2 linked regions of the Homo sapiens genome follow. The protein of the gene in region 1 binds, or shares a complex with, the protein of each later gene. Each region holds a gene or a part of one and is shown in the gene's direction. Other genes may lie near its edges.

Region 1 (15,558 bases):
TTTGGGATAGAACAAAGCTGACCTCATTATCTCTCTGACTTTGACCTTATTATCCCAGAACTCTAAGCCCATAACGGAACTGGTCATAGACTCAATACCGTGTCCTCAACAGTCTTTGCCCTGGCTCTGCAAACAAAGGTGCCAGATTTGAGACATATAATATCTTACATGATATAAGCCCAGATAATATTAACCAGCAAAGCAAGAGGAAGAAAGGTTCAATGGACTTTGGAGATAAACCTGCTCCTTTGGGAGTGGCTATCCTAACTCACAGGGCCTTGCTGCGTAAGGAAGGAATTCACATGCCTCCCCTGGGAGACCAGGGTATTTATAGACCGTAGGGGAGAGGAAGGATGGAGGCTCCTGGGAGACGTCATAGAGGATATGCAGAGGAAATGAAACTGCTCTGAAAGACAAACAGGAGGAATGGGGACCTGTGTGGCTATGGGAGAGGATCAGAAGGAATGAAGCAGGATGTAGGGAAAAGGGGGTAATTCTGTGGAGCTGGGCTGGGCTGGGGGCAGGAACAGAGGAACAGTTCTTCACCTCAGAGAATCTCTCTTAGGACTTATTCAGCTAATAAACTGTGAACCCTTCAAAGACATTTGAAATATAGCTGATTATCTGAATTCCACTGACAACATTTTTCAGGAACTTGGGTGTTGTGTCAAGGAAGGCGTATCTGTGGGAACCCCTGGTGTTCCTTGAATATATCAGACGATCTGAGAAGGTATGTAGTTTGCAAAGAAGTTGGAAGAAACAGAGAAATGGAATAAGCATTTCCAGGGCAGTTGGAGCCCATGTGGCAGTGGCTGAAAGGTGTCCCATGGAAGGAATTAGCATGTAGTGACTTGAATATAGTATTAAACACTTGAGATGTGAATAGAGATAATGTGGTTATGCTGCAAAATGGCTACTTCTCTAATTTTTGCAAACCTGATACCGTGTGATGGTTAGTATTTGACTCTGTGTGCTTGGGAAGAGGGCAAGTGTGAAAGACAAGATCTCGGTCTGTGGCCAGGCTTAGGACCTAGCTGGTGATCAGAATTAAGAGGTATTGGACATCAAGACAAGAATCACACAGTTAGCTGAAGAAGAAACCCCAGCAAAGTCCAACAAAGAGATTATTCCCTCAAAATGATTATTAGGATCTTTTGATTCACAGAATAAGTTCCAGGCTAAGTTTCACATAATGAACATCATGTCTCTGATTTAAATGGTCTCACACCCAGAATGGGAAAGTGAACCCATGAATATGGCTTAAGCATCTACTACTCTATGGCAAGCATTGTGCTGGCTGCTCTGGTGGTTATAGATGAGTTAGAAAGCTCAACTCTAGCCGTTAGTATCAGAAAGACAAATACTCAGTAATGAGAGAGTGAAAAATTCATGTTCTCTTGTGGTGGTTAACTGAGCAAAGATAATTTGTCATGAAGCTAGTTAGTGAGGCATCAACTAGCAGCTGGCCCATGCTTTTTTCCCCCAAGTTCCTGTTAAGTAGCTTCAGAGGCAGGGTAAGCTTTGAAGTTCTTCTTAAATACTTTTTCCCGATGTTGCTGCTACTGAACTTCTTTTGCTCATTAATTTAGCTTATGTCTTAAGGAACAAATTAGATGAGTGACAATGGGAAGACTCATTCTGAGATGCTCCAAAAGCGCTGGCCTATGGAATGAGAATCCTGTGCCTAACCACAGTCATTTTGTTGTGCCTATGCAGCCAGCTAGGGGACTGCTTGGCCAGTGAGCGCTACTTCTATGCTGGGAAGACACAGAAGGAAAAATAGGAGTTGGGATTTAGTTGAACCTAGGCTCCGTCCTGACTTTGCCACCAGCTTTCTGTGTAGCTTTGGGTAAGTCACTTTTCCTTTCTGGACCTCAGTTTCTCCATCTGCATAATGAGGGGGTTGGGGCTCTTGCTGTTATGAAATCTCTCTGATTGCTGGCCAGGGTCATCCTTCTTCAGATGTCCTCTCCCCACTCCACTTTTTGCATTGATCCAGTAAAAACAACTACTACACAATGAGGAGAGGGAAGATGGTCACATCTTTGTGTATGTCTGTTAGCTGTTAGTGTTGACCCATCTAAGAACCAGTTGGACAAGTTGTGATGATTTTGCCCAAATAGAGACACTTGATATGGATCATAAACCTAGAGCAATTATTAACAAGAATATACAATTCCTTCTTTCATTCAACAAACATTTATTGAGTATTTGCTTTGGGCAACAGCACTGCTGGTGAGAATATAAAAACGAATAAGACATAGTGTTACTATCTCATATAAGTCAGAGATATATACAAATACCCATGGGAATATGTAACATTTACACAATGCTTCCCTTACTATAAGAACCAAACTCAGTGCCGAGTACTTTATAGGTATTGATTCTTTTAATCCTTTCAGTAACAATGGGAGCTAGGTGCTAGCCCTTTTTTCTGATGAGGCACCTAAGGCTCAGAAAGGTTAATAATTTGCTCAAAGTTACCTATGTAGTAAGAGACAGAGCTGCCTTATTCTAGAACCCATGTGCTTAACCACTATGTACTTCATGGCTTCCTAATTCAAGACAGTATGAGTTAGGTGCTAGAAGTTCAAATAAAGTGATAGGTGGACCCAAAAAGTGAGAAACTGCTTCTTTTTTTTTTTTGGAGACAGAGTCTCACTCTGTCACCCAGTCTGGAGTGCAGTGGCGCGATCTCGGCTCACTGCAAGCTCCGCCTCCTGGGTTCACGCCATTCCCCGGCCTCAGCCTCCCGAGAAACTGCTTCTTGATGTTCAGTGAGGAAAGAGTGTGGGCTTTGAGGTTAGGCAGTGATATAGTTTGGTTCTGTGTCCCCACCCAAATCTCATCTTGAATTGTAATCCCCACATGTTGAGGGAGGGACCTGGTGGGAGGTGATTTGATCATGGGGTCGTTTCCCCCATGCTGTTCTCATGATAGTGAGTGAGTTCTCATAAGATCTGATGGTTTAAAAGTGTTTGGCAGTTCCCCCTCCCTCTCTCTTTCTCCTGCTGCCTTGTAAGATGTGCCTGGCTTCCCCTTTGGCTTCCACCATAATTGCAAGTCTCCTGAGGCCTCCCCAGCCATGTGGAACCGTGAGTCAATTAAAACTCTTTTCTTTATAAATTACCCAGTCTCATGAGAACTCTGCCCCCATGATCCAGTCACCTCCCACCAGACACCACCTCCAACACTTGGGATTATAATTCTACAGGAGATTTGGTGGGGACACAGATCCAAACCATATCAGAGCCCTTTCTTCCTGATCAGTTTCAGAAGGCCAGAGGATAGACCCAAAGGTGGGGGGAGAAGCAGGTCAGGAAGAGGAGAAAACTAACATCCAATGAGCAGGGGACTGTGCTAAGTATTTTACACACATTATCTCATTTAATCTCCCAACCATAATGTCTTTGTCCATTCCTGTTGCTATAACAGAATACTCGAGACTGGATAATTATAAATAATCCAAATTTATTTCTTACAGTTCTGGAGGCTGGGAAGTCTGAGATCAAGGTGCTGGCAGTTTCTGTGTCTGATGAGGGCCCAGTCTGTGCTTACTAGATGGTGTCTTGAATGCTGCTTCCTCTGGAGCGTTCAAACACTGTGTCCTCATATGACATAAGGGACAGAAGGGCAAAAAGGGAACTAGGGTGCCCCTTCCAACTTCTTTTATAAGAGCACTAATTAATTCATGAGGGTGGAACCCTCATGACTTAATCAATCTCAAAAGGCCCTTCCTCTTAACACATCACCTTGGGCTTTTAATTTCAACATATGAGGCCAGGCGTGGTGGCTCACGCCTGTAATCACAGCACTTTGGGAGGCCAAGGCGGGGGGATCACCTGAGGTCAGGAGTTTGAGACCAGCCTGACCAACATGGAGAAACCCCATCTCTACTAAAAATATAAAAAATTAGCCGGATGTGGTGGCACATGCGTGTAATCCCAGCTACTCTGGAGGCTGAGGCAGGGGAATCACTTGAACCCGGGAGGCAGAGGTTACGGTGAGCCAAGATCGTACCATTGCACTATAGCCTGGGCAACAAGAGTGAAACTCCATCTCCAAAAACAAAAACAAAAAAATTAAACATATGAATTTTGGAGGGACACATACATTCAAACCTTAGCACTTAAAAAATTAGGTACCATTATTATCCTCATTTAACAGAGGAAAAAACTGAGCCTCAGAGAAGCTGAATAACTTGCCCAAGGTCACACAGCTAACGAATGGGGTTGAGGGGCAGGATTTGAATTCAGTTATGTGAAACTCCAAAAGCTGAGTTCTTTTTAATGCCTCACACTGTTCACTTTAACCCACAAGAGACGTGGATGAGTCAACTGAACAGCAGTGGCTGGTGGTGACATAGGACAATAAGCAGAACTGAATAGCATGTGGATAGCTCTGATGAGGGGGGCAAGTCACACTTTGAACTCACATAGGTCAGCTATCTCACTTCTGTCCCCAACAATGCACTGAGTCCTACCCTTGCCCCCAGGATTGTCCCTCACCTTGACTGGAAACTGAGTCTTGCTGCTGACCACAGGTCCTGAGCCCCAAATGCAGCAACATTTCCAGAAATTTTACAGCTACTTGCTGCCTCAGGGCAGGAGAGTGTGGACAGTTTCATGTACCTCCTTCCCATCTCCAGAGAAATACCTTGAAACAGTGGTCCCCACATTTTTGGCATCAGGGATTGGTTTCATGAAAGACAACTTTTCCATGGACTAGGGTTAGGAGGGATGGTTTCAGGATGACTCAAGTGCATTATATTTATTGTGCACTTTATTTCTATTTTTTTTTTGTAATATATAATGAAATAATGCTACAACTCACCACAATGTAGAATCAGTGGGAGCCCTGAGTTTGTTTTCCTACAACTAGATGGTCCCATCTGGGGGTGATGAGAGACAGTGACAGATCATCAGGCATTAGATTCTCATAAAGAACATGCAACCTAGATCCCTCACACATGCAGTTTACAATAGGGTTCGTGCTCCTATGACAATGTAACGCCACTGCTGATCTGACAGAAGGTGGAGCTCAGGTGGTAATGGGAGCAATGGAGAGCGGCTGTAAATACAGATGATGCTTCGCTGGCCCATCTGCTGCTCACCTCCTGCTGTGAGGCCTGGTTCCTAATAGAACAGGGAGCCATAGTGGTCCATGGCCCAGGGATTGGAGACTTATGCCTTAAAACATTTATCCTGCTGATATTCATTCAATAGTATCCTGAACAAAAGACAGCACAGTGTTGGGCCGACAGTTGCTCACCTGACAGGCAGTTATGAAGTATCAATTATGTGCCAGGCATTGTGCTAGGTGCTATCACAGCAGTGACCTTAAAGTCTGGCAAATAGATACAGATATTCGAAAACTGGTCATTTCAATCTGATATTAAGATATCTGGGAGCCTACAAGGGGTTCAGAGTGGGCAATCAGAGCTGCGTTCCTTGCCTCATGGGCCTTGACCCCTGAATGGATATGGTGGTGATGGGTCCTCTCTGCAGAATTACAGCAGGCCCGTAGAGCACAGTGTGCAGATGCAAAAGTGTTCCTGATGCACTGTGAGAGGACCTACCAATGACAGGTACAGCCATAGCTGTTATGGAGAGGGCAAAGTCACTGTGGGCAAGGGTGTCCTGAGAAAGAAAGATGAAATCTTGGATCTGGGACTACGAAAACAGATGTGGCCAGGCATGGTGACTCACACTTGTAATCCCAGCACTTTGGGAGGCCGAGATGGGAGGATTGCTTGAGACCAGGAGTTTAAGACCAGCCTGAGAAACATAGTAAGACTCAGTCTCTACAAAAAATATAAATAAATTTAAAAATTAGCCTGGTATGGTGGTGCATGTCTGTAGTCCCAGCTACTTGGGAGGCTGAGGTGGGAGGATCACTTGAGCCTAGAAGTTTGAGCCTGCATTGGGCTGTGATTGCACTACTGCACTTCAGCCTAGGGTAACAGAGCAAGACCCTGCCTCTAAAAAAAAATGGATGTAATTTGGTTAAATGAAGAGAAGGATTCAATTAAAAAATGATTCTCCCAAGTGTCAGATCTTTAAATCTTACTCTAAACGCATGCCTTCAGCTTGGCTTGAATTTCTATTGGTTTGCTTTTATGCTTTTTTTCCCCTCACCTTGTACATTTTGAAGGCTAGGTAGGGTGGGAAAATGGATTATAGAAAAAAGAAGAATGAATGAATGCTCTAACCAATAGAACTTTCTGCAGTGATTGAAGATTCTATTCTGTGCTGTCCAATACAGTAGCCACTAGCCACATATAGGCAATTGAAGCGTGGCCAGTGGAACTGAGGAACTGAATTTTAAACTTCATTGGAAATATGATTAGTGGCTATTGTATTAGAAAGCGCTATGTGTTCCAACCACTTAGCAATATGCCATACACACCCTAGTAAAGGTGCAATTAAATATGAAGGCTTCTATTAACCTAGTTATGGGGGACACTTATTTGGGTGTGCATGGGCTTGCCCAATCAAGGATTGGAGCACCAAGTTTCCTAAAAACAACCCTGCAAGAGCTTATTCTTAATTTGCACGGTACCTTCAGGCACATTATCTCACTTAATCCCATAACAACTTTGAAGTGGGTAGAGCAGAGATTATCACCTCCATGAACCCCAGTAAGTTTAGGTGATGATGGCAAGGCCCTACAGCAAATGAGGGTGGAGACTAGAAGCCAGGTGTTTCTCCTCCTGGTTAGAAAATGCTTTCCATCCAGGCGTGGTGGCTAACGCCTGTAATCCCAACACTTTGGGAGGCCGAGGCGGGTGGATCATCTGAGGTCAGGAGTTCGAGACCAGCCTGACCAACCTGGTGAAACCCCGTCTCTACTAAAAATACAAAATTAGTCGGGCATGGTGGCGCATGCCTGTAATCCCAGCTACTCAGGAGGCTGAGGCAGGAGAATCGCTTGAACCTGGGAGGCGGAGGTTGCAGTGAGCTGAGATAGGGTATTGCACTCCAGCTTGAGCGACAGAGCAAAACTCGGTCTCAAAAAAAAAAAAAAAAAAAAGAAGAAAGAAAGAAAAAAGAAAAAAAGAAAAAGAAAAGAGAAAGAAAGCAAACTCTTTCCAGGGGAACAGTGAAGGGAGAATGGTCTCCTGCTACCCATGTCTGCTACTCATATCCTGGGTCTCAAGGATGAAGAGGGGTGCCATGCTTCACATGCTTTTTTTTTTTACTTGAGTGTGGTTAATGGGCCATAGGCTATTAATGAGAACCTTATCTTATTCCCTTCCTGCTACCTGAATTTAGGCAGTAAAGATGTTTTTGAAAATTTCATTTATATATTCAAAATTATGTATTGAGTACCAGTCATGTCGCAGGTACTGTTCTAGGTCTGGGGACACAGCTGTGAACAAAGCAAAGATCCCTCCCTTGTGGAGGTAACCCTTCTGGTGGAGAGAGACTGATAATAAATACATTGTGTATATATAGGATTTTTGCAACATTTCAAAGATATTTTAAATATGCCATGGTCTCTCATGTCTTTTATGGCACACACGCACCCTGTCCAATGTATCTTTTGTGTAAATCTGGACTTAACACTTCAAGCAAACTGCCTGGCTTGCTGAAAGGTGGAGACACCTTTCGATTCAGTCTTTTAATATGTGTTGAGTGCCACCTATGTGCAGAGCAAGATATTGGGGACTTTGGAGAGATCCAGAAGAGTGAGAAGACAGTATCCTACCTTAGGGGGTTCCCAGTCCAATGAGGGAAGCAGCCCCATGCCTTGGGAGCTCCCAAGCTATAGAAGCAGCTAACAATCGAGTCTGGAAAGGCAAACAACTTCAGGACCCGCTTCTAAAGCGGAATCGCAAGTACACGCAAAATGAATCCAGCCTTGACTGTGTGGAGTTGGGTAAACCACCTGCCTCTTACGTTGATGGGGAACTAGAATGAGGACAGCTCCAGGGAACAAGAAAGGGTAGACCATAGGAGCTGTCCCATGTCCCAACAGTGGGGAGGAGCTGATGGGCGGCCCCTGCTGGATTAGTGTTATCCTGAGAAGGCTTCTGGATGCGATGGGATTTGAGGTGCTGCTGCAAAGAATGAATTGCTCACGGAAGGGTGGGGTGGGGGCATTCCAGGTAGAGGGTGCCTCCTGGGGGATGCAGGGAACATGAGGGGCCTGGGCAATTAATCAAGCCTTGGGCACAAGCCTAGGCAGTCACCCCCAATTCAAAGCCAGTTGAAAATGCAGAGGAGAGAGGAGGGCCAGTGTTTGGTTGTCTTGACCAAACCCTTGAAGCTGGCCAGCGGCAAGGGCAAGGACCAGGGTCAGAGGTAGAGGGCGTGAGTGAAGGCAACCCAGACTGAGTCCTTCCCTAAGCGCCCAGGTTTCCTGACAGCTGTTAAGGAAGCAAGGTGAGAAAGGGTTAAGTGTGCCCCTCCACCGCCCCAAATGCTTCCTGTGTTTGAAATCCTTCAGGTCTCTGCAAACCCTCTGGCCCCCGGCCAGGCGGGCATTGTCCGGGGAGCGGTTGTAGGTTGTCAGAGAGGCCGCGCAGCCTTTGTTGTGGGGCCACCTCGGGGTTCCCTCTCGCGCTCACGCTCGGGCTGGGGCTGCAGAGTGCGTGCCTGGAGGGGGGCGGTGCGGGAGGCTCGCTCCCTCTCCCTCTTCCTGCCCCCCCTCTAGCCCTCCCGATGACCACATGACCAAGTGGGCTCGCGGCCAAGCCACAAGCTACAAAATGCAGCCCCTGGAGTGAGCGGGGAGCATTCTCTCTGGCAGCCGGGGTCACGGGCAGTTGCAGCCGCGGCCGAGCAGCCAGCCGCTAAGAAAGAGCTCGCCGCTGCCGCTCCCGGAGCCGCCGAGGCCAGCTTCGCGGCGCTGCCCCGCGGCGGGAGAGGAGGCTGCAGAAGAGCGGAGGCGGCCAGCGGGAGCGGCGGGGCTCAGCGCGCACACTCAGCGGCCGGGGAGCCTCCCGAGCTCTGCGCCCGCACGCGCCAGCCGCGGCTCGCGCCTTTCTTGGCCTCCGGGCGCCCGACCTCTCCTCCCCCGCGCCGGCTCGCCGGGGCCGCGGCGGCCCAAGGAGCAGCATGAATCTGCGGCTCTGCGTGCAGGCGCTCCTGCTGCTCTGGCTCTCCTTGACCGCGGTGTGTGGAGGTGAGTGCGCGCCCTCCCGCTCGCCCGGGCTGCAGCCGGCGTGCTCCTTTCCCTCCGCCCTATTCGCACTCTCCCCGCCTCCCGGGGAGCCCGGCGCGAGCCGTGCAGTAGCAGCCACGCGCCGGCCAGCGCCAGGCAGCAGATTGACAGAGCGCCCCGAGCCATGGGGCGGCTGGCCACAAGGACTGCTTCTTTTGCGGGGCTCAACTCGGCCTTTGGCATCACCTGCCCGTCACCTTGTCCCTCCTAACCGTCGCTCGCAGTCCCAGGAGCTCAGGACCACAGGTGTGCGCCGCGTGTCCCACGCCCTGCACCCCGCGTGGTAGAGGTGGAGGCGGGGGACATGCCCGCTCCCTCGTGGATCGATGGAAGGAACTGACCAGAGTCGAGTGGGCTGGGCTCCCATGTTGAACGTCTTCTGGTCCCTGAAGGCTGGGAGCCTCCCGCCAGTCCAGGGGCGCGGGAAACCGGGGATGATGTGCCAACATGCAGACGTGACACTTGTTGCATAGGCAGGAGTGCGCGGAGGGGGTGGCGGCATGGAGCCCAGCTGTTGCTCCTTTCGGCCTGCATGTGTGAGCAGAGGCAGCCTCCCCCAGGCAGGGCCGGGCCCAGCCGGGCTGGGCTGGTCTTCTCCTCCCTAACCCCAAGGTCCTGGCTGGTCTCCTCCCCTGCACAGGATGCCCTCCCCATAGCCTCCATCCCACCCCCAGAGACTTGGTTCTCTTACATCCTGGCTCCAGCCTTCCTTTCTGTCCCAGGCACGGACATGCTTCACTTTAGTCTCCCTGCCGCTAGGCACCAAAGGAGGAAGCACAGCACCTGACCCGACCCCTCCCTGCAGCTCAGGAAAGGGGAGTCCTTTTGCCCTCACCTGCCAATACTTGGCACTAGTGCCCATGTCCGCCCCTAGCCTGGTCCCCAACCACGCCCCAGCAGCCCCATCCCAGGCTGCCTGTCCTCTGTGTCAATGTCTCCTGGGGCTGCCAGCTCCCACCTCCAGCTGCCACAGTCCTATGATCTGGCTGTCATTGCTGCCTGCCTGGCACCACACAAGGGGAAGGCCAAGACCAGGTGGACTAACGCCAGGACCATGGCTGGAGTCACAGGGAGGTGGGAGCAGAAAGAAGGAGAAGGCAGGGCAGTGAGTTTCCTGGGGCAAGGGCACAGGGCCCTAAGTGGTTCCAAACCCTCCAGAACAGGAGGATGGCATGCAGCCCAGGAGCCTCCGAGGGGCCCAGCCAGCTCTGCCTGCCTCTCATCGCAGGCCACCTCCTTTCTCTGCTCTTGCTTTTTGGCCCTGCTGTGGCTCTGGGAACACTGCCTGGCTTCTCAGAAAGGTGCAGTGGTTGGGGCTGGCACCTCCTGCCTCCAGGTAGCTGGCCGGTGATTTCTCTATTCAAGACCTGAACACGAAGTGAGCCACCACCACAGTAAGAAGTGGGTAGGCTTTTTCCACAGAAACTCCTGTCAGGCAGGTAACAGAGGGAGCAAAAGATACGAATGTAAGATACGAATGATACACCATACCAGCCTATCCTCAGGGAGCCTACCATCTGGTGTCATTGGCAAGGCATGACACTTGCACAATACCACCACAGGCAAATAGTCCAGGGTGGTGCCTTCAGGGAAGAAGAAGACTGGGTGCAGAGAGTGTTCCAGAGGAAGGTAGGGCTCCTGGATCTGCACACTTGGTGCTCCCCCCAGAGGCTGTGGGGAGACCCCTGGCCAATAGACAACCACTCAGACCCTCCTGGGTCCCAGCCATTGGGACAGTACTAGCAAAGGGGAGAGAGCTGGTTTCAAGGGAAGGGAAGTCAGCCAGGATGCCCGAACACCATGTGGCTGGTCCAGAGCCTGCCACTTCGTGCTTTAATTCCCCCGTCTTCATTAGGTCATCTGTCCACTGTGATTTGGATAAATTCGTTGCCCTCACATTTTGCTCAAGCCTCGTGCTGGAAACTTTCAGGGCTCTCACTGACTTCTCTACTCCCTGACTTCTCCTGGAGCCAAGGAAGGGCATGTCCCTGGAAGTGGCCACCAGCCAAGGGTCCAGGTACACATGTCCTGCTCCCGCTGGCTCCTGTCCTGGGTTAGAAGCAGGAATCCCAGAACCACTTTGTCCTTGGCCCGGACTGGCATGCTGTCCCCAGCCAGAGTCCCCAGTCAAAGTTCCAGCCTGAAAACCACACTTCCTCCTCTCCACAGTCTGTCCTGACTTGAAATGTCCACCCCCGACCCCTCTCCACGCTGCCTCTCATCACCCCGCTACCACCACGTACACTCCTCCACTGCCTCCTGACCTGGGATACACTTTGCTCTTGTGAGTCTGAGAACTCCTGGTCCAGGGCCAAGTGTCCCTCGGTCTCTGAGCACCCCTCTTTTTCCCCTTCTCCTCCCCCTCCGCAGGCCCAGCTCAAAGCCTGCAGTCACAGTGGGAGTGTGAGGAGAGCCTACTGTACCCCTCCTGCTCAGGGAAGGGCATCTCTACTCCATCCCCAGTCCTCAGCACTAAGCACCCGTGTAACCTGAGCCAGGCCTCTCCTCGCAAAGAACTAAGGCAAGGGAAGCAGAGGGCCACCAGACAGAGCATGATGTATCCCAGGGCAGCAAAGCTGGCACTGGAGACAGCACAGGGCCCTGGAGAAGGCGACTGGGATGGGGGGCTGGGCAGACAAAGAGACACATGCAGGACCACAGAGCAGTGGAGGGGCATTGCCAGCAGGGTCCCCACCGGAGCATACGTTTGGGCTTTTAAAGTCATCACAAGACAGGCCAGACTGAGAGAGGAAAAACAGGTGCGTCATTCCTGATGAGACTGGCATGTTCCTGAAAAGTCGCAAGTACCTCTTTGTGCATTGGCAGGGTTGGAGTTCAGATAGCATGAAAGTCAAATCCTGTCCTCCCCCTGACTGTGGTTCTCAGCGTGGAGATGTTGTAGCTTCGTGGCTGATGGCACTTCAGCAGGCAATGGCTCCAATCTCTCTAGGCTCGAGATTGTTTGGAGGATTGCTCCAGCCTCCTTTTACGTAGCAAATGAGCTGGAAGAAAATATTTAAGTGCATTAGGGCTGGCCTCCATTTCTAAAGGGGAATTCTTTTTTACAGTCAAGACTTCTGCAGTGATGAGAATCAACAGCCTCTAATTTGTTCCTTTGGACAGCATAAAGCCAGGGTTTCAGATGTCAGCTTATCTGATGGTGAGCCAGACTCAGAATCAAAAGTAGGAAACAGGTGGGTGACGGGCTCAGAGTGCGGGAGGAGCCAGCAGATCTCGGTGATGCTGAGGACAATGAGTCCCCAACGCAATGGGAGGGATGCAAGAAGCCTGGGGCTGCTCTCCAGGGCCCGGCTGGGGGTTCAGTCAGCTCAGAGTGGTTCTTCTCTGCAGACCTAGAGTCTAGACATCTTCCTGGCCAGAGCCACCAACCCTGCTCCCCATCCTGACATATGGCCTCTAGCCCTCCCTTTCTGACTGCCAGACACTCACAATCTGAGCACCTGGAGATGATGCCCTCCCCCTCCTGGCACCATGCTTCTCTTCTCCATGTCTGCCACCACCCTGAGCTACAATGGCCTGCACCACTGCCCCATCCCTTCTGCACCCCCAGCAGTCGAAGGTGCAGAGGTGAGAGCCAAGTGTTGACTTGGTTCACTTCACAAGGCCCCTAGGTCCTTCCCCTGCTCCTTATCAGCATCATTCAGATCCGCCCTCAGTGATCAGGGTGAGCCTTGTGGGGACCCCAGAACTCAAGGCAGAGGCTGAAGCAGCTGCAGTGGGGAGCTTAGTGAAGGTCTTTCCTTCCTTTCCCTCTCCAGCCCCAGCCCCCTCACAGATGGCGCCAAGAGGGTAGCTCTATGACAGTCAGACAGAAGCAGCCCCCTTGTTCCATCCATACTTACTGCTCCAAAGTGCTAAGATAATTCTTCTTTTAATTCTCATAGGTTATGAATTTAAGGGATAAGTTGGCACGGAAGTGTGGCTAGTTAACCAAATGACCCAAGTCAACAGCGGGGTCCTCATGGGCCTGGCAATTTTTCTTGGGGAAAGAGGGAAGGAGGGTGCAGGCTTGGAGAATATGTGTTTATGTGTGTGTGTGTGGAGGGGGTGGGTATGTCTGGGTGTGAGTGGGGAGAACTGCAGGCTCAGAAGCCTGGGGGAAGAGGGCCCTAAGGCCAAACCCACCCACTTTTGGCCCAAGAGGAGGCTGAACACTTGGAAATTGTGTGCAAGCAGAGGAGGACTCACAAAAACCAAGGAGCCAAGGAAGGAACAGAGCGTGGGGATGTTGGAGGCAGAGGCAGAGGGGAAGGGGGAGCTGCCAGGGGTATGATTGGGGTGTGAGCAGCCAATGGGAGGCTCTATGGAAACTGTGAGCAAGTGGTGGGAATTCCTGGGTAGATGGCAATGGGGCTCGAGGGACAGGGATCTAGATGCAGGCAAATCAGATGGTGTGCAGGGGGAGAGAGACTGTTATTCATTATCTCTGGCCTCAGATGCTGTATCTGCACAGGCCTGTACTGGACATTGCACAAGTACCCTGCCTGGCTGCCTCTTCCCCAGCACCATCTCATCTCCACACACTGCCTGCCACCACCAGCCAGGCTTGTCTTGGGGGTGGCAGCTCAGCTTCCCTGCATGGACTGCAGGCTTCACGAGAGTCGGCCTGCATGCCTTTTCCCTCACTGCACCCAAGGATACCCTGCACCACTTGGATTCCATTGTCAGGGCTCAGTCTGGTGTCAGGAGGCCTCTACTCTAAGCCTCCTGACAGATGTGGACAGATGTAAAGAGGAGCCCCAGAGTGCAGAATAGAAGCCAGCTGGGATTGAAATGGAAGGAATTTACATGAGACACAGGATGCAGGGTGTGATCTGGGAATTTCAGGAGGTAGGGCATTGGTGGGGAGGTACCAACTGCAACAGCCCACCCCCCTCCTGGTGCACAGACATGCTGCTGAAGGTGACCATTGTTTCATTTATTCATTCTCAAATATTCATGCAATATTTATTGGTCTCTAAATCTGGTCTCAGGTCTCTAAATCTGGTCACAGCATGAGGCAGGCTGAGTCAGAGACCTCTCCCCCTTAACCCGCCTGGCCCAGCCCCATCCACTGGGAGGACTTGGCGCCCTAGAGATGCCTAACCACCGATGAGACACCCAGGGGCGAGATATGAGCTCCCTAGTACTCACAAGTGGGTCATCCTGCATATCAAAGGATGTAGGAGTACAATGACGTGATGTTCGGGATTTGCTTTAAAATACTGCAGTCAAGGAAAATAGAAAAGGGATAACTAAAGCATATGTGACTCCATCTGGATAACTGTTGAATCTGGGTGATGGGTCCATGGCGGTGGGAGGGTCATTGTAATGTCATATGTCTGAAATGTTTGAAGTGTACCAGTTGCAGGGGTGCCGTGGTGATTACTGCCTCCTGCCCCCCAGCCAAGTACAGGCGTGACAACCCAAAGTGCACACCCCCCAATGACGTTCCAAAGAAAGAACCCACTTGTGCCTGTCAGAAACATGATATAACTGTCAAAAGGACAGAAAGTCAGCTACATCAATGGCAAGATGTGAGTAGTAGGTTCCGTTTGTCCCAGGACAGTGCAGAAATGGCAAATTTTCCCTCAATATGAAAAAAAGAAACAAAGAAAATCTATGAGAAGTGCCACCACATGGACAGACCACCCCTCCCGCGGGCCTGTGGTCTGCAGCCCCTGCCCGTTTCCAACAACCTTCCTCACTAACAGGCTTTCTCCTTCCTGCAGGGTCCCTGATGCCGCTTCCCGATGGGAATGGGCTGGAAGACGGCAATGTCCGCCACCTGGTGCAGCCCAGAGGGTCAAGGAATGGGCCAGGGCCCTGGCAGGGAGGTCGGAGGAAATTCCGCCGCCAGCGGCCCCGCCTCTCCCATAAGGGACCCATGCCTTTCTGAAGCAGGTACTTGAGCCTCTGTTCAGTGGACAGTGCTAAAGCGGAGGGAGAAGGACAGCCTAGAAGCCGGGTGATCCTGCCGCTCATCACTGGCCAGACACATCCATCAAACAGTCCTGGCGCCACACTCACAGAGGCTTAGAGCTGGCAAGAGAGCTTATGGGGCAGCTGTCTAGCCCCTTTATTTTACAGACGATCTCCTCGTCTGAGGCCTAGAGAGGGGCTTGATACTTGGGGCCAGTCTCCCTTCCACCCTGCTGCCTGGGGTTGGGGAGGCTGGCCTGCTTAGAGATTTCTAGACATCCTGGTGGACCTTAATGGCTGGGGAGGGGTGCCCAGGGCAAACCTACAGATGTCCAGTGTAGATTGTCGCCAGAGTTGGGGAAGGAGGCAGAGAGCTCTAGGGGCTCTCAGGCAGAGAACAAGAGGACAGTTGTGGCTGTGGTTGCCCGGAGCTGTGAGAAGGAGGGAAGAACCAAGGTGGCAGCAGAG
Region 2 (16,283 bases), on another chromosome or scaffold:
TTAATGTAGACTCACTGTAAATATTTTTAGAAACACCATGTTGCTCTCCTGAAGGCTGGCAGGGCTGGGTGTGAGCCGGCCTGGTCCTGTCAGCCTCTTCCTGACCTCCTTCCTGCCTCTGCTGTACTTCCTGTCTTCACGGCCTCCTGCCCAAGTCCCTCCTCTCAGCCAAACAAAGACTTCCTCTGCACCTAACCTTTGGGGGTGGGAGGAGAAGACAGGGTGGCATAGGGACACCTGGACAAAACCCTTTGGCTCTCCCTCCCTTGCTTTCCCCATGGGTAAGGTCAAGTGTGTGGAGCAGATCGCAGCCACAACCTTTCGGCATCAAAGACTGTCTCGCTTGCTTTCCTGTTCTCCCCACAGTGAATCCTTTTTAAGGAAGGAGTCTGTTGATCTAACCCACCTTGTTTATGAAATCGTAATGAATTCATCTGCTCAGTTTTTATTCATCAAAGGCATGATGAGCAGCATGGAGTAACCAGAGTCCCCACACTAATTTATTAAAGTCTAAGCTCGCGGTGCTGGTGCTTGACATTTAAAGAGGGTTGTCTTATGATAGGGTGAGAAGAATGTGCCATTTCCACAAGATTTCATGAAATGCTGATGCTGGCCCAAGCTACTGCCTCTCTCCCCATTTCTATCATCAAGGGTCTCTGATGTCAGCGTGGGAATCAATGGGCTAATAAAATTTTAGGCATCTTTCCTGTTCTAAGTCATGGGAACCCAGTGCCCCATCCAGATTGTCCTAAGAAAGTTCTTTCTTTCTTTTCTTTTCTTTTCTTTTTTTTTTGAGACAGAGTTTTACTCTTGTTGCCCAGGCTGGAGTGCAATGCTGTGATCTTGGCTCGTAGCAAATTCTCCTGTCTTAGCCTCCTGAGTAGCTGGGATTACAGGTGCCCACCACCACGCCCAGCTAATTTTTTGTATTTTTAGTAGAGACAGAGTTTCACCATGTTAGCCAGGCTGGTATCGAACTCCTGATCTCAGGTGATCCACCTGCCTCGGCCTCCCAAAGTGCTGGGTTACAGGGGTGAGCCACCAGGCCCAGCCCCTAAGAAAGTTCTGATTACTCCAGAGGTTATAGAAATGGGGGTCCTACAATTCCAGTGCATATATTAGAGGGCACTATGTATGGGGCGCTGTGCCAAGTAATGGGGGGATGGGTGGGTAATGGTAGGTAAAAGGGTGACAGGAGGTGGGTGGGAGATAAGGAAAGGCTTCCAGACCCCTGATTCTCACAGTCTAACAAATAGCCCGTCAAAGTGGGCTTGGTGCTGTAGTGGGGAGAATGGATTCTCATGTGATCTTGCCATTCATCAACAAGAGGGTCAGTTTGTCTCCCACTTTTGATCTTTTTGGCAAGAAACCCACTTCTCCAATCACATCTGGAAGCCATAGCCATAATTCCCAGAATCACAGAAAGCTAAACCCGGCTGGCCCAATGTCCTCATGTACAGATAGGGAAACTGCCCCACAGAGAGGGGCAAAAGCCTTGCCCAGGGTACAAAGCAAGCTAGTTATTGGAGTTCAGGTAAGATATCAGTGACTCCTAAGAAACCTCCCCGATCTATACTATCTGAAAATGCCAGTTTCCATTTACTCGCTGCATCACTCTCCAGTTTATCTTTCCTTGTAGTGCTTATCATTACCTGAGTTCACTGCATTTATCTAACTTTCATCGTTTTGTCTCTCTTCCACCTCTAGAATGAAAGTGCAGGAAACCGAGGGCATAGTTTGAATTGCTCACACTGTATGGCAAGTGCCTCAAATAGAGCCTGGCACATAGTAGTTGCTCAAATTTTTTTTTTTTTTGAGATGGAGTCTCGCTCTTGTTGCCCAGGCAGGAGTGCAGTGGCGCGATCTCGGCTCACTACAACGTCTGCCTCCTAGGTTCCAGTGGTTCTCCTTATTCAGCCTCCCAGGTAGCTGGGATTACAGGCGCCCGCGACCATGTCCGGCTGATATTTGTATTTTTAGTAGAGACGGAGTTTCCCCATGTTGGCCAAGCTGGTCTCGAACTCCGTACCTCAGGTGATCCACCCACCTAGGCCTCCCAAAGTGCTGGGATTACAGGCGTGAGCCACCGTGCCCGGCCAGTAGTTGCTCAATATTTTCTGAGTGAATGAATTAGGATGGGATTAGAACAAGAGGGTCAGTTTGTCTCCCACTTTTGATCTTTTTGGCAAGAAACCCACTTCTCCAACCATATTTGGAAGCCATAGCCGTAATTCCCAGAATCACAGAAAGCTAGAACCAGGCCAGTGGGTGAGTTTTCTTGCTGTCCCCAGAGACCAGGGAGTTTTGGGAGTTTGCAGTATGGCCTTAGAGTTTGAAATAGCACCAAATGGTGGGGTTGGGGGTGGAGAGAGTTGCTGAGGGGGTTTCTGTTTTAATTATCAGAAAGCGGCTGACCATTTGTTTTTGGTCAGATAAGCTGCTAAAGTCGGGCGTGTGTGTGTGTGTGTGTGTGTGTGTGTGTGTGTGCGCGTGCGCGCGCGCACGCGCGCGTGCCTAGGGTGGGGGTTGGGGGTGTTGTGTGCTAGAGAAAGGAGAGGTGAAATTCCTCAGTGTGGGCTGGGCAGTCAAGTTATATCCCTCCTGTGTCCCTGCCCTCCCTTCCCCTTTCCCTCAGATAACACCACCAGCTGTTAGGGACACAGCTGTGGCTGCCTCTCGGGAAGGAGAGAAAAAGGCCCTGTTGCCCTGGGTGAGTTCCCAAGCTGTGGAGTTCAAAGCAGACCTGTGAAGTGAGGGGGCTGGAGCAGAGAGCTAGGAGGGAGGAGGTGAGAAGTCAGGAAGAGCACAGAAAGGCAGTACTTCCACTTTGATGTCCCCAGCCCACAGCTTTGGGTAGGGTCTGGGTGAGGTCCCAGCAGAGGGGTTCAGCTTTCCCCCTTCATCCCAAACTCTTAGAGAGATCCAATTAAGCACCCGTCCCTGTACTGCAAGCAGTGTGTTTATTCAGATCTCTGATCCCACTACACACAAGCAAGCACACTCTTCTACGCACCTGATGTACATTCCTTGGGTGAATGTGTGCATTCAGTGCACGCTCATGCCTACAACACACAAACATGCATACTCTTCTATACACGTTAATGCATGAACCCAATGCACATCATAGCCCACTATGCACAAGCAAGCACACTGTTCTACATGCATGAATGCATGCACCCAATGCACATCCTACCTCACTATGCACAAGCAAGCACACTATTCTACATCCATGAATGCATGCACCCAGTGCACACTCATATCCCCCTGCACACACAAGTTCAGCCTGCTCACAAGCACCTACAGACTTCACATCCAAGTGACCTCGTGGCACACAGAAAACTTGCATTCACAAAGCACACATAGTCAGCATGTCCATGGGCACAGGCCAAGTCAGGCTCTGCTTTTTAGGCCAGGCACAAACCTGGTGGTGGGGTGGGTGAGGAATATTGAACCACTGACTCCAGAGGTCTCCCAGAAGTCTGGGCTCTCCTCAAAGGGCACTAGCAGGTCTGGAGTGCTTTTCTGCCAGGTGTCATTCATCTCGGTCTCATCACAATGCCCTGAAGAAATCACCCAGGAGAGAGAGGGAAGTTCCCCAGGAAACCTGTGCAGGCCTCTCCAGGGCAGGCCAGCTCTGGGCACCCTGGCCAACAGGCTTGCCTTAGCTATTGGTTTGCCAGATAGCTCAGAGTAGAATTTCCTGGATCACTTTAGCAAAAGTTGCCTTGTTAATGCAGTAGAGCAGCTCTGGGGTGAAGATCCAAGTCTTACACCCTTCTCCTGAGTGTGTTTCTATTGCTTTAATTCAACAGACTTTTACCAGGTGCCAAGTAGGGTGGGGGGCAGAAATGAAAAGAAGATATCTGTCCCAGGCCTTGTATATGTCTAGTCTGTGAGGCCCAGGACCCATATACTTCTGAGCCCCGGGACACACAAGTTTCATCTTCAGCTACTGGTCCTATTTTCCAGTCTTTCTTCTGTGTGGAATGGTGCAATGCGGAACAGGGACAGATCAGATCAGGCAGGATAAGGAGTGAGCTGGCTAATTCTGCTCACTTCAGGCTGTCATTGCAGGGGGCACTCAGGCCATCTGGCTACAGCTGGCTCCTGGTTGGAGGCCGGATCTTATCAGCACTCTACCCTCTCTGGTCCCAAACGGTGGCCTCTTCCCAGCCCTGGCCCCCAATTCCCTCCCCTCTCAATGAGTCTGGTAACTCTAGTGAGATTAACTGCTCTTTACTCCCTCTAGGGCAGACATCCTGGAGGTCGGCAGATGAAAGCGATGGATCCATATCCTTTCCCACAGGGGTCTCCAGGCTCCTGTCTGGCTCAGCATTCCAGTGGGAACAGCTGAGGGGAGGGAGACAGGGACCTGATTTCAGGGACGCTTCAAGCTTGCTAGCTCCCTTCTCTCTGTATTTCTAGCTGCAAAGGGCACAGACATCTGCATCTTTCTGGGAGAATCATGGGAGAACTGGGATCACTAGGCGTCTCAAACTTGGTCTTTATCCTGGAATGTCCCAAGCAGTAATGTTTACTCGTAAAAGGGCCATCTATTATGACCTGACCTGAGCCAAGCTGGTCCCTGCACAACTCCAAGGTCCCCTTTGATAGGTAAAGATAGCTTACCACTGAAGAAGTCTGAGGTAGCCAAAGGTTAGCTATTTCCACCCAGGATATAATGTCAGGATATAATGAAACTATTATATCAGGATATGATGAATGAATCATGATATGATGAATGAATGTCAGGATATAATGAAAACCATTCTGCCATCTGCGCAGAACTTCTATTAGCCAAAAATGCAGGAGCAAGAGGCCCCAAGCAATTCCTACCCTGTGTACTGTGAGATGGATGGAGCCCCAGCTCTGGATCCTATTGGGTGTCCCAGCCCCCACTGTACAGAATGCCAAGATTCCAGGGGCAGAGTCCTGTTAGCTTTCTAGCTGGCACCAGGCAACCAGGAATTCTCTTTGGCAATGGCTAGAGCGAGGGTGGTTTCTGGATCAAGTCTATGGTGCTAACCCTAAGTGTACAGATTATTGCCTGGCAGGATTCTTATACCCTGTCTAATCAATGTGAGGTGTGTCTCTAAATAGTCAATCTATTTAAAATCTCACCCGGTAGAGCTTATTTTAAGGTAAATTACAGGTATCCTGGCATCGCCCTACATTTCTCTAATGCTTAACAGATGACACACCCCTCAGTTTAAAAAGGATTGGGCGTTTTTCTTTGGGAGCATAGTGGTTTAGTCCATGGGCTCGAGACAGCTTTGGTTCAAATTCTGGCTCTGACAATTACTGCTGGGTGATCTTGGCTAAACTGCTTCACCTCTGTGTGCCTCAGTTTCCTCATCTGTAAATTGAGGCTAATGAGAGCACCTGCCTCCTAATGTCATTTTGATGATTAAAAGAGATACTAATAAATATATGTAGAATGTATAAAATGTTTAGAAGACTGCCTGGCACACAATAAGTGGGCAACATGTAGTCCTCATGAGAAACACCAACATATTCATTACTCCACATTGCATTTAGGTGAAGGTCACAGGATCTTTCTAATCTCTCTCTGCAGCCTTCTCTCCTGTATCTCCCCACTGCACTCTAAGGCTTTTTCTATCTTTGCATTTTTTGTTTCCTCCTCCTGCCCCATCCTCTTGGTTCTTCTCCTGCCTTCTATTCTTGGCAAGCTCCTGTTTAAAGAACACAAACTCGGGGGCCAAAGACATGTTTTACTTATCATGGTCTGTGCTTTTTTTTGAAATGAAAATTGATTTCCAAAATTTACAAATATGAAAATTTCTTACAAAAATCCATAATTTGAAATTATCTTGGAAAAATCCTAAGACACAGTCATGCTGGGGTCCAGCTTTCTGCGTGGCAACCAGAGACTAGAGCTGAAGAGGCCTCCCTATGATGGAATGGGCACCCTCCAGTTTGCCACAGTCTTTACCATTCTCTGTTGTCTCAAACTACACTCTTGGCCTGTTTTTTTTTTTTTTTTTTGCAGGTATTTGAGTTTGAGTTCCTTGATCTCTGCATATGATTTTCTGATCCACTCTCCCTCCAGAAAATGGATTCCAGCTTTTGTAGTAACTTAAGACAAATATATATCGTGAGACAGGGTCTTGGCTGTGTTATTCAGGCTAGTCTTGAACTCCTGGGCTCAAGCAGTCTTCCTGCCTTGGCCTCCCAAAGTGCTGGGATTATAGGCATGAGCCACCTTGCCTGGCCAATTCCAGCTTTTGTAAGTCTTTTGCCTTGGAAGTGGCTAAGGCTCAGCTCCTGCTTTTGTTCCATCTCACTATTACCCAACGTCAGGTGGCTTCCCCAACTCTTCAAGGTTGTGGAAAGGGTGCGTATTTTTTAAAAAAAATCTTACGTCGTGCATCTTCCTTCCTTCCTAGAGGTCCTGGAGAGGTGATGAGCTGGGGCAAAGTGAGCGTCTACGGAACTTTCCCCACAGTATCCTCCAGTGACTGAGTCTTTCTCTAGAGACCCCCCTCCTCTAGCTCAACTTCCTGACCCCCTGTGGTCTTACAGAAACCTCTTGGTCCATGGAGGATAGTAAAAACCTGAGAACTGAAATGTATCCATGTTCTCACCACGTAGTAATTCTTACACTTGTTCTTCCATCTATGGATTCCCCTTTTCACTCACCTCCTACATCATCCATCCACTTACTCACTCAACAGCCATTCACCTGGCTGGGCGTGGTGGCTCATGCCTGTAATTTCAGCACTTTGGGAGGCCGAGGTGGGTGGATCATCTGAGGTCAGGAGTTTGAGACTAGCCTGGTCAATCCCCATCTCTACTAAAAATACAAAAAAATTAGCCTGCAATCCCAGCTACTAGGGAGGCTGAGGCGGGAGAATCGCTTGAACCCAGGAGGCAGAAGTTGCAGTGAGCCTAGACCAGCCTGGGCAACAAGAGTGAAACTCTGTCTCAACAAACAAACAAACAAACAAAACAGCCATTCACCTACGACATGCCAGGTACTGTATTATGTTCGTGTTTGGAGAAGAAGAAAAGCAAACAATCAACTGTAGCATAATTCACTTTATTACCTTGGGCAAAACATTGACCTTGTTGGGCCTTTGTTTCCTACAGATTTAATGACTTGTTTAGAGATAATTTTGTCCTGGGTTTCTTCCATCCTGTGACTGCCCTCAACCTTCTAAAGCATCCTGTGCCTTCCGCAAACTGCAAACTGCAGTCTACACTAGTGTAGGGGTATTTCTCTAGAAACCACAAAAGTTCTCAGAGGGAGGGTCAAAGCCAAGGGGTAGAGAAAGATGAAGCGAGAGGCAAAGTGGGAGAAGACCCTCCTGTGACACCTGGTCTGGGTGGGGGCTGGGGGTGCAGGAAGGGAGCCGAGGGGGCCAGACCTGCCTGCCAGGAGGACCTGCCAGATGCCCTGCCCATCCTGCGAAATCTTACACCCTCCTTGCTCCCTACCAGCCCTGGCTCCAGCTCAAGCTGGATTGCAATCTGCATAATGTGTCCCATTTAGATTGGATGGAAGGGGGTGAGAACAGGAGGGCGGAGAGCACTGAGGAGGGAGTGCCCTAAAGGGCAGGCAGGAAGTGGTGGCCAGAGGAAAGTGGAGGGATAGGGGCTGGGGTGAAGGTGGGTGGCAGCCAGAAAGGAGAGGCGGGGCCAGGAAAGCCGACTTGCAAAACCACAGATAATGTTCAGCCCAGCACAGTAGGGGTCAATTTGGTCCACTTGCTCAGTGACAAAAAGAAAAAAAAAGTGGGCTGTCACTAAAGATTTTGACTCACAAGAGAGGGGCTGGTCTGGAGGTGGGAGGAGGGAGTGACGAGTCAAGGAGGAGACAGGGACGCAGGAGGGTGCAAGGAAGTGTCTTAACTGAGACGGGGGTAAGGCAAGAGAGGGTGGAGGAAATTCTGCAGGAGACAGGCTTCCTCCAGGGTCTGGAGAACCCAGAGGCAGCTCCTCCTGAGTGCTGGGAAGGACTCTGGGCATCTTCAGCCCTTCTTACTCTCTGAGGCTCAAGCCAGAAATTCAGGCTGCTTGCAGAGTGGGTGACAGAGCCACGGAGCTGGTGTCCCTGGGACCCTCTGCCCGTCTTCTCTCCACTCCCCAGCATGGAGGAAGGTGGTGATTTTGACAACTACTATGGGGCAGACAACCAGTCTGAGTGTGAGTACACAGACTGGAAATCCTCGGGGGCCCTCATCCCTGCCATCTACATGTTGGTCTTCCTCCTGGGCACCACGGGCAACGGTCTGGTGCTCTGGACCGTGTTTCGGAGCAGCCGGGAGAAGAGGCGCTCAGCTGATATCTTCATTGCTAGCCTGGCGGTGGCTGACCTGACCTTCGTGGTGACGCTGCCCCTGTGGGCTACCTACACGTACCGGGACTATGACTGGCCCTTTGGGACCTTCTTCTGCAAGCTCAGCAGCTACCTCATCTTCGTCAACATGTACGCCAGCGTCTTCTGCCTCACCGGCCTCAGCTTCGACCGCTACCTGGCCATCGTGAGGCCAGTGGCCAATGCTCGGCTGAGGCTGCGGGTCAGCGGGGCCGTGGCCACGGCAGTTCTTTGGGTGCTGGCCGCCCTCCTGGCCATGCCTGTCATGGTGTTACGCACCACCGGGGACTTGGAGAACACCACTAAGGTGCAGTGCTACATGGACTACTCCATGGTGGCCACTGTGAGCTCAGAGTGGGCCTGGGAGGTGGGCCTTGGGGTCTCGTCCACCACCGTGGGCTTTGTGGTGCCCTTCACCATCATGCTGACCTGTTACTTCTTCATCGCCCAAACCATCGCTGGCCACTTCCGCAAGGAACGCATCGAGGGCCTGCGGAAGCGGCGCCGGCTGCTCAGCATCATCGTGGTGCTGGTGGTGACCTTTGCCCTGTGCTGGATGCCCTACCACCTGGTGAAGACGCTGTACATGCTGGGCAGCCTGCTGCACTGGCCCTGTGACTTTGACCTCTTCCTCATGAACATCTTCCCCTACTGCACCTGCATCAGCTACGTCAACAGCTGCCTCAACCCCTTCCTCTATGCCTTTTTCGACCCCCGCTTCCGCCAGGCCTGCACCTCCATGCTCTGCTGTGGCCAGAGCAGGTGCGCAGGCACCTCCCACAGCAGCAGTGGGGAGAAGTCAGCCAGCTACTCTTCGGGGCACAGCCAGGGGCCCGGCCCCAACATGGGCAAGGGTGGAGAACAGATGCACGAGAAATCCATCCCCTACAGCCAGGAGACCCTTGTGGTTGACTAGGGCTGGGAGCAGAGAGAAGCCTGGCGCCCTCGGCCCTCCCCGGCCTTTGCCCTTGCTTTCTGAAAATCAGGTAGTGTGGCTACTCCTTGTCCTATGCACATCCTTTAACTGTCCCCTGATTCTGCCCCGCCCTGTCCTCCTCTACTGCTTTATTCTTTCTCAGAGGTTTGTGGTTTAGGGGAAAGAGACTGGGCTCTACAGACCTGACCCTGCACAAGCCATTTAATCTCACTCAGCCTCAGTTTCTCCATTGGTATGAAATGGGGGAAAGTCATATTGATCCTAAAATGTTGAAGCCTGAGTCTGGACGCAGTAAAAGCTTGTTTCCCTCTGCTGCTTTCTTAGATCTGCAATCGTCTTTCCTCCCTTCTTTCCTTGTAGTTTTTCCCCCACCACTCTCTGCAGCTGCCGCTCCTTATCCCTGCCTTCTGGCACCAATCCCCTCCTACAGCTCGTCCCCCTCCCTCCATCCATCCTTCTCCCCTGTCTACTTTCTTGTTCTGAAGGGCTACTAAGGGTTAAGGATCCCAAAGCTTGCAGAGACTGACCCTGTTTAAGCTTTCTATCCTGTTTTCTGAGTGTGAGGCAGGGAATGGGCTGGGGCCGGGGGTGGGCTGTGTGTCAGCAGATAATTAGTGCTCCAGCCCTTAGATCTGGGAGCTCCAGAGCTTGCCCTAAAATTGGATCACTTCCCTGTCATTTTGGGCATTGGGGCTAGTGTGATTCCTGCAGTTCCCCCATGGCACCATGACACTGACTAGATATGCTTTCTCCAAATTGTCCGCAGACCCTTTCATCCTTCCTCTATTTTCTATGAGAATTGGAAGGCAGCAGGGCTGATGAATGGATGTACTCCTTGGTTTCATTATGTGAGTGGGGAGTTGGGAAGGGCAACTAGAGAGAGAGGATGGAGGGGTGTCTGCATTTAGTCCAGACACTGCTTGGCTCGCTCCCCGAGTCCTCCTGTTTCTGACTTCCTGCATAACTGTGAGCTGAAGGGTTTCCTCATCTCCCCATCTTACCCCATCATACTGATTTCTTTCTTGGGCACTGGTGCTACTTGGTGCCAAGAATCATGTTGTTTGGGATGGAGATGCCTGCCTCTTGTCTGTGTGTGTTGTACTTATATGTCTATATGGATGAGCCTGGCATGAACAGCAGTGTGCCTGGGTCATTTGGACAAACCTCCTCCCACCCCCCAATCCACTGCAACTCTGCTGTTCACACATTACCCTTGGCAGGGGGTGGTGGGGGGCAGGGACACACTGAGGCAATGAAAAATGTAGAATAAAAATGAGTCCACCCCCTACTGGATTTGGGGGCTCCAACGGCTGGTCCGTGCTTTAGGAGCGAAGTTAATGTTTGCACCAGGCTTCCTGTAGGGAGATCCCTCCCCAAAGCAGCTGGCGCCAAGGCTTGGGGGCGTCCTACTGAGCTGGGTTCCTGCTCCTTCTTGGGCTCCATGAAGGAAGTAAGAGGCTAGTTGAGAGCCTCCCTTGGCCCCTTTCCGGTGCCTCCCCGCCTGGCTTCAAATTTATGAGCATTGCCCTCATCGTCCTTTCTTGTTCCAGGGTCAGTGGCCCTCTTCCTAAGGAGGCCTCCTGCTTGCCATGGGCCAAAAGGCACGGGGTGGGTTTTTTCTCTCCCTACCCTCAGGATTGGACCTCTTGGCTTCTGCTGGATTGGGGATCTGGGAATAGGGACTGGAGCAAGTGTGCAGATAGCATGATGTCTACACTGCCAGAGAGACCGTGAGGATGAAATTAATAGTGGGGCCTTTGTGAGCTAGAGGCTGGGAGTGTCTATTCCGGGTTTTGTTCTTGGAGGACTATGAAAGTGAAGGACAAGACATGAGCGATGGAGATAAGAAAAGCCCAGCTTGATGTGAATGGACATCTTGACCCTCCCTGGAATGACGCCAGCTCTGGGGGCAGAGGGAGGAGGAGAGGGGAAGGGGCTCCTCACAGCCTAGTCTCCCCATCTTAAGATAGCATCTTTCACAGAGTCACCTCCTCTGCCCAGAGCTGTCCTCAAAGCATCCAGTGAACACTGGAAGAGGCTTCTAGAAGGGAAGAAATTGTCCCTCTGAGGCCGCCGTGGGTGACCTGCAGAGACTTCCTGCCTGGAACTCATCTGTGAACTGGGACAGAAGCAGAGGAGGCTGCCTGCTGTGATACCCCCTTACCTCCCCCAGTGCCTTCTTCAGAATATCTGCACTGTCTTCTGATCCTGTTAGTCACTGTGGTTCATCAAATAAAACTGTTTGTGCAACTGTTGTGTCCAAAGCCTCTTCTCATGAAAGTGTCTTGGGATAACCTCCAGCTTGCAAATGTTTCAGCATGGTGAGGGGGAAGCCGTAAAGAGAAGTGGGAGCTAAAAGGAGGGGGCGAAGTGAGGAGGGAGAGAGGATGGAGGAAATAGGCATCAGGAAAGGGAAAGGATGGGATTTAGGTGCAGAGAAGAAAAGGAAGAAAAGAAACAGGGGAGCAGCTAAGTGTTGTGCTCTGAAAAGCCACAGAACAAAAGGACACATATTTTGGAGGCCAGAGCATAGGTCTGGGGAAAAATACCAGCATTTCTTCCCATGGAGGTAGACCTATTACTCATCTATCCATCCATCCATCCATCCATCCATCCATCCATCCATCCACCAATCCATCTACTCATTTATGCCTTTATTCATTTACCATCTCCTATTGATTGATTTACTTAATATCACTTGAGTAGCCACTGAGTTTAGACCAGAAGCTTGAATCCCTGTTCTCCAATCAGAGTCGCTCTGGATGCTTTTGAAAATACCCAGTTCCTGGGTATCACCCCAGACCTATGGAGTCAGACTCTCCTTGACTCACCCCAGATATTTACAATTACTAAAAACTCAGATAATTTTTTGGGAAAGCCAGGCTTAGGGAATCTCTATCCAGATGGATTCTGCCCAAATTAAAGTGGGCATAGAAGACCAGAGGGTCAGAACCACAGCCAACTGGGCTTTGGTGGTCATCTATTTGGAGGAGGGGGGAAGGGGCTGAAATGATCCTGGGGTCGGCGTGGTGGTGGGGCTATTCAGTCCAGAGGTATTTGTCATCTTCAATAATGATCTCCTGGGTATTAATAATGTTTGCAGACAATGCAAAAAAATAATAATCATAGTAGAACTGATAGTAACAAGAGAGCTCGCATTTATGGAGTTCTGCCACTGTGCTAAGCATTTCCCAAGCATTATCTCATTTAATCCTTGCAGCCATCCTTTAAGAGGGGGCATTTTCACCTCATTTTGCTCATAAGGAAGCTGAGACTCAGAGAGGTTAGTTAGACCTCTTGACCAAGATCACAGACTAGCAGGTGGAAGAGCTGGGCTTGGAACCAGCTGAATCTGTCTGGCTCCCAAGCCCAAAGCCCACATTCTTGACCATGGTAAGGGGATGTTTCTCCCAAAGTACAAATGAGGCAACACTAGGTGTCTGGGAAGGAAAGTGAGAACTTCTGTGTGAGATGCCTGGCACACAGTGGAGAGTGAATGGGGATGGGGAGGGAAATGATGGAGAGTACCCGAAAGACAGAGACAGGGCAGAGAGGAGAAAGCAGAGGGACAGAGAAAGAAGAGAGAGAGGCGAGATAGTGAAGAGAAAGATAGAGACAAGGGAAGAGAGAGAGGGGGAGAGAGAAAGAGAGAGAGAGACAGAGAGAGAGAAATGAAGTATGGGGAGAGAGAAACAGAGGCAGAGATAGTGAAAGAGAGAGATATAGAAGCAGGGAGAGAGGAATTGAGAGAGAAAAGACAGAGGGAGAGGGAAGAGAGAGTGAATCAGGTAGACAGTGAAAGAGAAAGATAGAGACAAAGGAGGGAGAGAGAGGAGAGACAGGGAGAAAGAGAGAGATTGAGAAGAGAGAGAAACAGAGCAGAGATAGTGAAAAAGATAGAGACAGAGGCAGAGGGAGGGAGAGAGAAGAGAGAAACAGAGGCAAAGATAGTGTAAGAGACAGAGATGGAGGGAGAGAAAGAGAAAAGAGAGACAGAAAGAGAGAGGAAAGAGAAACAGAGGCAGAAATAGTGAAAGAAAAAGACAGAAAGAAGGAGAGGGAGAGAAGAGAGAGGAGAGAGAGATTGAGAGAGAGGGAAGAGAGAGAAACAGGCAGAGAGAGTGAAAGAGAGAGAGAGAGAGAGAGACAGGGACAGTGGGAAGAGAAAGAAACAGAGACAAAGACAGAGACAGAGACCGTGAAAGAGAGGCAGAGTGAGGAGAGAGAAATAGAGACAGAGAGAGACAGAGAGTGAGAACATAGGTGGGAAGAAGAAACGGGGAGGCAGGGAGGGAGACTGAGGGCAGGGAATCAGTGCCTGCTCTCCCTCTTCTGAAACACACCAGGGAAAGCCCTTTGGGAATTTACGACGGCAACAACAGGCTATTGGAGCCACTATTATCATTATTTTTACAGATGCTGTAAAAAACCTCAGCAAGTCTCCTGGGAAATCTGAGGTAAGCTATCCAAAACATGATACGGTTTTAGCCTTCCCTTGGTTGTGACAGCACTTACTAATTCACTGGTTCACACATGCCTTCATTTATTCACCCATTCATTCATCTGTTTGTTCCACAAGTCCTTATTTATCACGTATGTGCCAAGCGCTATGCTGGACGCAGGACCAAATGGTGAGCGGCCTCCAGTGGGCTCGCAGTCGGCTGGTGGAGGCAGACAGTGAAATGGGCGATTACAGCCCAGGGTGGTGAGTTCTAAGGGAATGTGTGAAGTGTTCGAGGGCCTGTCGTGGAGACAATGGAAGGAGTCAGGCAGGGCGTCAGGGGAGACTTTACAGCCACGGTGCCTGCCTGGAGCCTGCTCTGAAGCATGGAGTGTAAGTGGTTAGTGGGGAAAATGTTCTGGGCAGAGGAATTGCCCACGGAGAACACAGCCCCTCTGAGGAACTGGAACGAACACTCATCCTTGTTTTTACTCACCCCCACTCCAACTCTGGGAGGTTGGCCAGTTAGAGGCACAGAGAAAATCTTGCCCAGTTCTCATGGCGTGGATGCCGAGAATACTGGGGGCTGGGACTAAAATCCAGGAATCCAGGTCTCTAGACAATTGGGGTTGTGCAGGGCTTTTTTTTTTTCTTTTTTTCTTTTCTTTTTTATTCTTTTTGTCACTTCCAGTTTCTTCCCTCCCTGGGTTTGAGCTATCTTCCTCTAAGTTATCTGCCAGGGTCTCCTAACTAGGGGTTGGGAGGCCCAGGCCCTTTCAGTCTGAGCTTGTTAAAAAGAGGCAGATAGATTCCGTGGGAAGATCCTCCCCAACTTCAGAAGCCAGGATGACCCCCAGCGCAATAAGCTTTAGATGTGACACACCTCCCTACCGTCTCAGCAGACACCACTGTCTGCATTCCAAGGAGTTCAACACTTGCAGGGCCTGATCTGGGAGGGCCAGCTCTTCTCAATCATTGCACAAATGCTTATAAAGTCTCCATGCACGACGTTGGAGACAGACACAAAGATGTGACCCAGGGAGCTTGAAATCAAATACACAAGAAAGGAGGTTCTGAGATGCTGAGCTCACTCTAGAAGTTTCCATTTCTAGTTAGAGTGTTGGAGTATCAGAGCAATGCTCATTTATTTATTCATTGAATCCTTTTTTGTTTTTCAGTGTCTGTCTTGTGCCTGGGACTGTCTTAGAAGCTGGAGATGCTGCCGTGAATGAGACACACCATCCCTGCCTTCATGGACCGACTAGAAGCACCTTCTAGTCTTACTTTCTCATTGAACAGAGGGGTAAACTGAGGCTTATGGTTGGGAGGGGGAAATGATTGACACATGGTCATATAGTGGGATGGTGGCAGAAGTGGGACTAGATCTCAGGTTCCTCACTGCCAGGCAAGAGCGTGTTCTGTGACTCTAGGCTTAGAAAGGAGAGGAAGTCTCTTATTGAGAACACACAGGGCAAGTGGAGAGTCAGATCCATGATGAGCCACCAACTGGGAAGTAGGAGGGCACAAAGGTGCTTGAGGATCATTCGAGGTTTTGTTAATAAACCTTTTGTTTCAGAAGAGTTTTAGATTTACAGAAAAGTTGCTGATAGAATACAGAGAGTCCTCATATATTCCACACCCAGTTTCCTTTATTATTAGCATTTTAGATTAGCAGGACATGCTTGCCACAATTAATGAACCCTATTGATACCTCACTATGAACTGAAGTCCACTATGAACTGAAGTCCAACCCTATTGATACCTCACTATGAACTGAAGTTCAGACTTCCTTACTTTTTAGCTCATGTTCTTTCTCTGTTCCAGGATCTCATGCAGAATACCACATCACATTTAGTCATCATGTCTCAGACTTCTCTTGGCTGTGACAGTTTCACAGGCTTTGTTTTTGATGACCTTGACGGTTTGGAGGAACATTGCTCAGGTATTTTGTCCCATGTAGAAATATCTTTCTATGTCCATATATCAGGCACATGCTTGGTGATGAGATGAAGCAATACAAGATATACATGTGATTCCTGCTCTTTTGGAGTTTAACAATCAATAATAAAGTGCAGTAAGCATATTGCGGAGGAAGTACAGGATGCAGTGGGGACAAACACCCATATTCTGGTCTGCACCACAGAGGGGTCCCAAGACAGGGCTAGTGTGCTGGCTCAATGCACAGGCCCACGTTCAATTCCACAGGGGTATAAATGTCTGACATTCTCCTACTTCCAAAGCCACCTTAGGGTGCATTTTCTTGCCTAAATAACTAGAAACCTGAGGACATGAGACAAAGGACTATTTGTGCTCAGTGAGCATCTCCCCGAATATTGTTCTGTACTTTATTATTTAGTTATATGGCACATCTCTTGCTACTTGAGGCAGCTTCTTACATGGACAGTGGATAATCAGAAATGGATTCCCCAAACCTACTTGAAGCACCCCACTTGGCCAGCACCCTAGTACTCCCAGCCCCTTGTCCCCTGCGCACAGGGAACAGGTCTCTAGAAAAGCCCAGATCTGGCCACTCTGTCTGGGCTCTGCATTCCTTCTCATCTCTTCTG

What was found.
Region 2: the proteins of APLN (region 1) and APLNR are in contact, whole or in part, in a cryo-EM structure (PDB 8XZG), measured with the Homo sapiens proteins. Residues at the interface, in NP_059109.3 of Homo sapiens: Arg66, Pro67, Arg68, Leu69, Ser70, His71, Lys72, Gly73, Pro74, Met75, Pro76, Phe77; in NP_005152.1 of Homo sapiens: Tyr35 (codon at 8,214), Phe78 (codon at 8,343), Trp85 (codon at 8,364), Tyr88 (codon at 8,373), Thr89 (codon at 8,376), Tyr93 (codon at 8,388), Ser106 (codon at 8,427), Ile109 (codon at 8,436), Phe110 (codon at 8,439), Met113 (codon at 8,448), Pro163 (codon at 8,598), Val164 (codon at 8,601), Arg168 (codon at 8,613), Gln180 (codon at 8,649), Cys181 (codon at 8,652), Tyr182 (codon at 8,655), Met183 (codon at 8,658), Tyr185 (codon at 8,664), Glu194 (codon at 8,691), Glu198 (codon at 8,703), Leu201 (codon at 8,712), Gly202 (codon at 8,715), Ser205 (codon at 8,724), Tyr264 (codon at 8,901), Lys268 (codon at 8,913), Tyr271 (codon at 8,922), Ser275 (codon at 8,934), Cys281 (codon at 8,952), Asp284 (codon at 8,961), Leu285 (codon at 8,964).

What each region holds. Positions count from the first base shown.
Region 1 is NC_000023.11:129,648,135-129,663,692, reverse strand, and holds the start of APLN (apelin preproprotein), read left to right. Parts: upstream 1-8,736; 5' UTR 8,737-9,062; coding exon 9,063-9,129; intron 9,130-14,900; coding exon 14,901-15,067; 3' UTR 15,068-15,072; intron 15,073-15,558. UniProt on the Homo sapiens protein: Peptide hormone that functions as endogenous ligand for the G-protein-coupled apelin receptor (APLNR/APJ), that plays a role in cadiovascular homeostasis. Functions as a balanced agonist activating both G(i) protein pathway and beta-arrestin pathway of APLNR.
Region 2 is NC_000011.10:57,228,833-57,245,115, reverse strand, and holds APLNR (apelin receptor), read left to right. Parts: upstream 1-7,865; 5' UTR 7,866-8,111; coding exon 8,112-9,254; 3' UTR 9,255-11,525; downstream 11,526-16,283. UniProt on the Homo sapiens protein: G protein-coupled receptor for peptide hormones apelin (APLN) and apelin receptor early endogenous ligand (APELA/ELA), that plays a role in the regulation of normal cardiovascular function and fluid homeostasis.